3 separate regions of the Homo sapiens genome follow, and all the other regions are linked to region 3. Evidence: fine-mapped expression QTL. A gene starts in region 3. Each other region holds a variant in brackets. All regions are shown on one strand. Distances are between the middles of the regions.

The links. PIP is the estimated chance that this variant, and not a neighbour inherited with it, causes the effect. A credible set is the group of variants that fine-mapping cannot tell apart.
Region 1: its variant is the best candidate, but not a certain one, in a credible set for the expression of ASIC1 in whole blood (TOPMed, PIP 0.68).
Region 2: its variant is the best candidate, but not a certain one, in a credible set for the expression of ASIC1 in whole blood (TOPMed, PIP 0.57).

Annotation. Positions count from the first base shown.
Region 1 is chr12:50,078,717-50,081,473 of GRCh38, reverse strand. It overlaps ASIC1 (acid sensing ion channel subunit 1), which reads right to left. Exons shown (of 12, transcript NM_001095.4): 7 at 2,494-2,550; 8 at 1,419-1,572; 9 at 885-976; 10 at 293-372; 11 at 110-214. Among named protein-coding and RNA genes, the nearest start is that of SMARCD1, 5.2 kb to the left of the region's middle. RefSeq lists a silencer at 217-386. The variant T/C (reference allele first, on the strand shown) is at 1,597.
Region 2 is chr12:50,523,404-50,526,160 of GRCh38, reverse strand. All of the region lies in intron 1 of DIP2B (disco interacting protein 2 homolog B), which reads right to left. Among named protein-coding and RNA genes, the nearest start is that of DIP2B, 20 kb to the right of the region's middle. The variant A/T (reference allele first, on the strand shown) is at 1,209.
Region 3 is chr12:50,056,251-50,059,007 of GRCh38, reverse strand. ASIC1 (acid sensing ion channel subunit 1) reads right to left here and starts at 1,412. Exons shown (of 12, transcript NM_001095.4): 1 at 1,092-1,412; 2 at 1-257. The coding sequence starts at 241. RefSeq lists silencers at 1,210-1,379, 1,450-1,609.

The DNA of each region.
Region 1 (2,757 bases), 22 kb before region 3:
AGGCAAAGGAGAGAAGGTGGTGGCAGAGGCGGGTGGGCGGGGGTGGACGGGGTTCCTGGGGCGGTGGAGGCACAGGCGGGCTGGAGGGCGCCCTCGCTCGCTCCCTCACGTGTCTTTTGACGTCGTCCAGGCTGAGGGCCACGCCCTTGTCCGCACTGCTCCTTTTGGCCTCCTTCTGGCATTTTCCTCGTCGGCACAGCTTGTGCTTAATGACCTAGGACGGGGACGGGGCAGGTGGGCGGGCTGGACCCCGCCCCCACGTGGCCCCGTGCCGGGCCTCGCCCCCGCTTACCTCGTAGGCGTAGTCAAAGAGCTCCAGCACCGTGAGGATGCTGGCCCCGATGAACAGCCCCATCTGGCCCCCGATGTCACCTGCGGGGGCAGGCGCCAGGGGGGTCAGTGGGGTCAGGACATCGTGGGGGCAGCAGGGTTTACTGGGACTGGGGCAGGCAAGTTGTATTCTCAAAGGGATTGGTAGCCTTCGCACAGAAGGATCGCAAAGCCAGATTCAGGTGGAATTTTTGTTTTCTTCTCTATGCTTTTCTGCGTTTTTCTACCTTTCTAAAACAAGCAGGTGTTTTTCAAGAAAAATAATCGTTTACAAAATACCACAACCCTCTTAGTTTAGGGGCATATGAAATAGTCTCCACTTCCATGCCTACCCCTCCCTCATGCCCACAGGCCTGTCTTTTCTCTTTTCCACTTTGCCCTAAGAGAAGGCTCAGTTCCCTTCCCTCACCACTTACCAAGACAACAGGGTTTGGGGAAGGGCCTCTGGGGTGGAGGACCCTCATGGGACAGAAGTGAGCACCCTGCTTTTGGATGATAGGGAGCCACGCCATGCCCATGGCATGAGAAGGGGACAGGTGTCATCAGCAGCTCACCCAGGAGCCCTGCAATCTCATAGGCCTTCTTCTGTTCAATGGTCTCATAGTTGAGGACTTCAAAGAAAATGTCCAGCACCAGGATGTTCTCCCTGCACAGGGATTGGGGGAGGAGACCTAGGTTCAAGTCATATCTCTATCTCTTACTAACCAGGTGACCTTGGCAAGGCAGCCTCTCTGAATCTCAGTTTCCATATCCATAAAATGAGATGCTGATGGAGATACCTGCCTTTTAGGATTAAATGAGATGGCATATATGAAAAAATGTTCTGTACCATATGCAGTATGCATCAAGTATAAAGTGACTCCGGTTACAACAATGAGGATGAAGAAGGAGGAGAAAGGGGTGCTTCCCTGCTTATTCTGGCTTGATCTTCCCTGCATACCCACCCTAGACTCTTTGCTTGCCTTTTGGACCTTCCCCGTGTTATCTCAAGTTCCCCCTGCCTGCCAGCCCCCGCCCCCATCAAACCCCACTCATCCATTCCACAGTCCCAACCCAAGGGCCTTGCTCTACCCAGCCAGAGCCCTTACCCTATGTATTGCTCAGATTTGTTGAACTTCTTGGCCAGGTACTTGGCTGAGGCTTTGCTGGGGATCTTGACCATGGACAGCTCTTTGCCATAGCGGGTCAGGTTGCAAGGCATTTCACACACGCAGTACTCCTGGTCCTTCTCCACCAGGAAGTCTGCACTCAGCCAGGTGAGAGGTC[T/C]CAGTTGAGTGGTGCCCTTCTGCCAGCACCTTCCCACATGCACATCCTAGCTCTGCCCAGAGAAACTCTGGGCCCCTTTCTCTTTCCGTGACCTGCCCTTCACCCTGCCTGGATGCTAAACTCTGCCAACATCCTACCTCACCATCCAGCCTGAGGCATGTTTGAGGACTTTACCTGCTGAACCCTGCAGGCCACTGAACCAACGATGTAGATGGAGAGAACTAGGAGAGTGAGGAGAACCCCAGCTGCCCCCTCACAGCTGTGTCTACCATGTGCTAATTCTCACCAAGCCTCCCCATGGATATTTCTTACTCTTATATCTCACTTCCTCAGGACCCTCCAGGGTCAACCAGCTGAGGGGCTGATGAAAGAAGATGAAGGCCATTCCCAGGTGACCTCTGTTCATTTTTCATAGGGGCCTCTGAAGATGCTATTCTCAACTTTATTGATTATTATTATTATTCTCAGACAGGGTCTTGCTCTGTCACCCAGGCTGGAGTGCAGTGGTGCAATCTCGGCTCACTGCAACCTCACCTCCCCGGTTCAAGGAATTCTCCCACCTCAGCCTCCAGAGTAGCTGGGACTAGAGGCACATGCCACCATGCCCACATAATTTTTTTTTAATTTTTCATAGAGTCAGGGTTTCACCATGAAACCAGGCTGGTCTCGAACTCCTGGGCTCAAGCAATTTGCCCACCTCAGCCTCCCAAAGTGCTGGGATTACAGGTGTAAGCCACCATGACTGACCATTCTCAGCTTTAATGTCAGACACAAGAGAGGGTGCAGCCCAGTCCAGGAGTTATGTGAGGCTTCTGGGAGCGTGACCTGAAACTCCTGCGCACGTGGCTGGCAGCACCTTTTCCCTCCCCCAGACTGCCCCAGGCCAGGGGCGCTCACCCAGAGCAGGATCTGCACACTCCTTGTACTGCTCTGGAGTACAGTATGGGGCATCCCCTACAGAGGAGAAAAGACAATGATGCAGGATGGGAATTCAAGGGGTCTGGTGATGGTGGTAGTACCAAAGGCCTAGAAGGTGTAAGCTGGGAGAAGATGGGAAGGGAGGACTGGCAGGCCCCCATGCTGCCCCAGAAGTGACCCACTCCAGGTCCATACCTTCTAGACCCTTCCCACCCATCCCTGGGGGTGCAGGCGGGAACTGAG
Region 2 (2,757 bases), 470 kb before region 3:
AAAGTCCATTTGTTCACTGAACAAGTGTCTATTGAGTCTTCTATTCTAGGCACTAGAGAGACAGCAGGGAACAAGACAGTAAAATCTCTGCACTCAAAAAACAAACATTTTACTGAGGAAGAATCCAATCATATTAATATATGAACAAGATCATTTCAAATGTTGGTATTAATTAGAAAATTTTAAACAGGAAAAAAAGAAAGTAAAAGAGAGTGGTGAGATGAAGAATGATGGGAGGGGTTGCTAATTTAACCTTGGAGGTTCTCTAAGGAGGTTAACTTTGAACTGAGACTAAGTTGGAGCAGAACATTCTAGGAAGAAGAAAAGCAAGGAACAAGACATAGAGGTGGCCAGGCATGGTGGTTCACACCTGCAACCCCGGCACTTTGGGAGGCCAAGGTGGGAGGATGGCTTGAGCCCAGGAGTTCAAGACAAGTCTGGGCAACAGAGTGAGATCCTGTAGCTACAAAATATAAAAAAATTAGCAAGGTGTGATAGTGCAAACCTATAGTCTCAGCTACTAGGGAGGCTGAGGTGGGAGGATCTCTTGAGCCTGGGAGGTCAAGGCTGCAGTGAGCTCCATGTACACCACTGCACTCCAGCCTGGATGAGAGAGTGAGACTCTGTCTCAAAAAAAAAAAAAAAAAGGGGACCTAGAGGCAGCAACATGCATCACGGTTGAGTTCAAGGAAGAAAAGAAATGCCTATTTTGTTCAAAGTATCATCTCATGATGACCACCCTCTTTTAAATTGTGCCCAATAACCCTCTACCGGTATTCTCTGTATTTTTTTTTTTTTTTTTTGAGATGGAGTCTCGCTCTGTCGCCCAGGCTGGAGTGCAGTGGCCCGCTTTCGGCTCACTGCAAGCTCCGCCTCCCGGGTTCACGCCATTCTCCTGCCTCAGCCTTCCAAGTAGCTGGGACTACAGGCGCCCAACACCACACCCAGCTAATTTTTTTGTATTTTTAGTAGAGATGGGGTTTCACCATGTTAGCCAGGATGGTCTCAATCTCCTGACCTCGTGATCTGCCCGCCTCGGCCTCCCAAAGTGCTGGGATTACAGGTGTGAGCCACCGTGCCCAGCCTTCTCTGTCCCTCTTGATGCTTTTTCTCCATTGAAATTTTTACCAAATGGCCAGGCACAGAGGCTCACACCTGTAATCCCAACACTCTGCAGGGCACCAAGGCAAGAGGATTGCTCGAGCCCA[A/T]GAATTTGAGACTAGCCTGGGAAACATGGCAAGACCCTGTATCTACAAAAAATAAAAATTAGGCGGGCATGGTGGCACAGGCCTGGAGTCCTAGCTACTCAGCAGGCTGAGGGGGAGGATCTCTTGAGCCCAGGAAGAGGAAGCTGCAGTTGAGCCATGATCACACCACTACACTCCAACCTGTCTCAAAAAAAATAACAATAAATTTTTACCATCTAACAAGCAATACATATTACTTGTTATTCTCTGTCTACAGCTACAGATGTAAGCCCCCTAAGGGGAGGGGTGTTTGTCATGTTAATCACTGCTGTATCACCTGCACCTATGTGGCACATAGTAGGCACTCAATAAACACCAGATAAATTAAAAAAAGGAAGAGGGAAGCGGGAGGATGGAGGGAGGCAGGGAGACAGGTGGAGAGGAGAGGGAAGAATAGGGAAGGAGAGAAGGGAGGAAGGAAAAGAGAAAGAAGAGTCAGCCAATGTGGCTGAAGCACAATGGGTGAGGGGAAAAGATGAGGGGTCAGGGCGGTGTAGGTCTTGCAGGCCATGGAAACGTATCTGAATTATATTTTAAAGACAAACTGAATTCATGGAAGAGCTATAAAGCGGGGAAGTAATATGACCTAATTTGCAGTTTAAAAAGCTCTCTACCTGCTATGTGGAAAATGGGTTAGAGAGAAGAAAGCTGGGACACCACCAGGTAAGGAGCTAAAGAAGCAAGAGATGTGATGACATGGGCATGATTAACAGTGACTCGGCATGGAAAGAAGTAGATTTAGAATATATTCTCAAGGTAGTACCAAAAAGGCTCACTGATGGACTTGATACAGAGAGGTGGCCTGAAGGAGAGGAATCAAGGATGTGTTATCAATTTATGGCCTTTCAGCTCCAAATATACCCTCGCTGCTCTGTGAAAACTGAGATGGGCCCTTTAAATATTTTTCCTTTGACAGCTGCCATGATGTTAAACTTTGCCTGTCCATAGAGGGCACTGGAAAGACATTGCAGGAAGAGGCTTTTCTTTCTAGCTCCAGTGTACTCCTCCTGACAGGATAAACAGAATATCAACAAGTTCTCTATTCTGATGTCCTATGGAGTCCTAGTAAATTTATTTTAAAATATTTTATAATTTGAGGAAATTGGGAAGACAACTGAACTAAGCTAATACAACTTGTATGTTTTCACACGTAATTGTTTTCCTATATATATAAGAATTTGGGCATAGTATTCTGTCCATTCATCCTGTTTTAAAGCTAATACCATACTGCTTTGAATACAGTAACTTTAGAATCTGTTTTAATATGTGGTAAGGCCAAGTATCACCTCACTATTCCGTTTCTAAATTTTCTTGGCTATTCTATTTATTCTTCCATGTGAACACTAAGATCATTTTATCTAATTCTCCATTCCCTAAAGAATCTTCCATTGGAGTTCTAATTGGACTCCCATTAAATTTATATATATCAGTCTTCTCATTCAGGAACACAGTACAGTTGGCCCGTCCATATCTTTGGGTTCCACATCCATGGATTAAACAAACCTCTAAG
Region 3 (2,757 bases):
CCACCTCGTCGAGCTTGGTGACATGGTGGTAGTGGAAGTAGTACTGCACACGCTCCGTGCACACACACAGCAGCACAGCCAGGGAGCCCAGGAAGCACAGGGCCCACAGTGCCCGCTTCAGAGACAGCCGCTCGTAGGAGAAGATGTGGGCCAGGCCGTGCAGTGTGGAGCTGCTGGCGAAGGCCTGGATGCTCACCGGCTGGACGCCACCCACCTCCTCCTCCTCGGCCTTCAGTTCCATCCTTGTTGAGGGGATCCTGGGGGAGGAGGGAGGGACAGTCTATCATTGTCCTGGGATGAAAGTACACATGGAGCCCCTCCACATGTGCCCATCCAGAATCCTCATCTCCAGAGGTCACCACTCCTCGGGCAGAAGACTTCCCTGCTTTGCAAGCCCAGAGGTGGCTGACCAAGGGACACATCCAGGGTTCCTCCAAATACAGAGGCACAGGGGGTCAGGTCAGGCCAAGAGAATGCTCCCCAGAGAAGCTTCCCAGGCCCGGGGAGACCCCAGATATAGTCATCCGAGGTTGAGGGGGAAGTCCTGATGCACCCATAGGCAGGCGCAGGAGTTCCCTCCAGATGTGGGGTCACTCTGGGACAAGAATATCCACCCCATCCTGGAGATGAAAACTCACCCAGATGGGCTGACCCCGGGGTAAGGAGCTCCTGTCCTGGTCACGGGTATTCCCTGGACGGGGCTGTGGTCCTAAGGGCTAAACTGGGGCCAGAAAACCCCCAGGGAGGTGGCTACATCTAGGGAGGGGCCCAGCCTGAGTCCTCACCTGCGGGTGTCTCCAGTTCTCACATAAGCGCAGGCTGTGTGTATGTTGGGAGTGGGGGGTGGCGGGCTGCCCGAGGTGGATGTATGGAGGGGGGGCGCGGTTCCCTATGACAGCGAGCTGTCCCCGCCCCGGACGCAGCCCCCCCCAGTCCAGCTTCTCGTCGCAGTCAGATCCCCAGCTCGGCCCCCGCCCCCCTCCCCAGCCACCGAGCCGCCCCAGCAGCAAGGGAAATCCAGAGGGAGGAGAGTCCCGGCTTCGGGGTACCGAGGAGCCTCGCGGCCAAAGGCAGGGGTATCGGAAACCCACCTGAGGGGGCTTCGGCAAGCCGGCAGCCGGCGGCGGGTCCTGGGGCGCTGGACCGGTGGCGGGCTCAGCGCCGAGTCGCGGAGGGGCTCATGGCCCGGGGCCGGAGCCCGCGGCCGCCGCGGCACGCCGCGCAGAGCCCTGCAGGGAGCGCCCCGCCCGGCCCCGCTCGGCTCCGATCTGTCCGCCCGCCCGCGCGCGCTGGCTCGCTGGCTCGCTCGCCTCGGCTCGGTCTGCCCGGGCTCGGCGCGGTGCGCGGTGCTCTCAGCCCTGGGATCTGCAGGGATCCATCGTCCGGCCGGGAGGCGGCGGGAGGGGAGGGGGAGGGGAGAGGGTGCGCGTGCGCGCCTACGAGTGTCTGCGAGGCTGTCTCTGGGCTGGTGTGCGCGCGGGGCCCCGGATCCGGGAGCGGGACCCAGGGCTCCCCGCGCCGCCTCGCCCCTCCTCGCGGCCGCTTTCGGCGGCGCTGCCTCTCTCCAGTCCCGGAGCCGTCTCCCTGCCTGCGAGGCCCTATGGCTTGTGTGTATGACTCTGTGTGTGGTGTGTGTGCGCGCGCGCGTGTGTGCGCGCAGGAGGGAGGGTGTCTGCCCCTAGCGTCCCTCTCCCCGCGCTGTCTCCTTCGGATCGATGCTCCTGCCTCTTGCTGCTGCTTCCTCTGGTGGCACACACGCGCGTACACACACACATACACACACACGCTCCGAGTCACACTTGACTAATTCAAGCACTTAGCCCATATGGAGACAGACACACATACCGACCAGAGTCACACCACACCATTCACAACCACACCCCCCCGCAACAGATGTCCACGTATCCCGGGGGCCTGACCCACATGGCAAGCACTCACCTGCTCTTATCCCTGCTCCCACCTGCATGTGACACATATACACGTGCACATATGTGAGCCAACACGCAGCCTTGACCACTCAGATCCCATCCTTGTAGCTTTGGGCTTGTGGGGGGCATGGTCGCAACCCCTTACTGCCAAATCTCCAAAGAAGGAGCAGAGAAAAGGAAGGAAAAATAGCCAGAGGTCAAGGGAATTTGGACAGAAGGAAGGAGGCAAAGGGAGTGAAGGGGACAGGGTGAGGAAGGGTTGGAACGGGGAGCTATGCTCAGGGATGGAGCAGAAGTCTCAGCACAGAACGCAGGCCTGGGGGCTGCTCCTGTGGCTCTCACCTTTCTCCTTCCCTGCCTCCCTCCTCTTCTCTGAGAGGCCTTGGGGAGGGGGGCCCTCCCTATCCAATTAACAGAGAAGGAGCAATCAAGGGGAAGTTGTTAATTTGCTGATGCTCATTAGGGGCTCTTAGCACAGAGGCTGTTGAGGTCTGATGGTGTCAGATGATGAGGAGGAGGGTGCGGGGGACCAGAGTTCTGTCTCTAGTGGCTCCTTCGCTCTACTTGCAGGCTGGTGCGGCTCGGGGAGAAGGATGGTGAGAGGTGTATTCCTAGGACATGGTGCCGGGCTTTAAGTTAGAAGAAAACCTGTAACGAGAAGGGGATGGCACATTGGAAAGAAGTTGGATGAGAAGTTGGGAGTAGTGGACATCTAGGAAACCAGAGAAGGGGTCTGGAGGTCCCTAGTGGGAGAGTGGACTTAAGATTGTGGAGGAGGGAGGTCGAGATCCATTTACTAGGGGACTGGACACGGAGCTGCCAAAAGGAA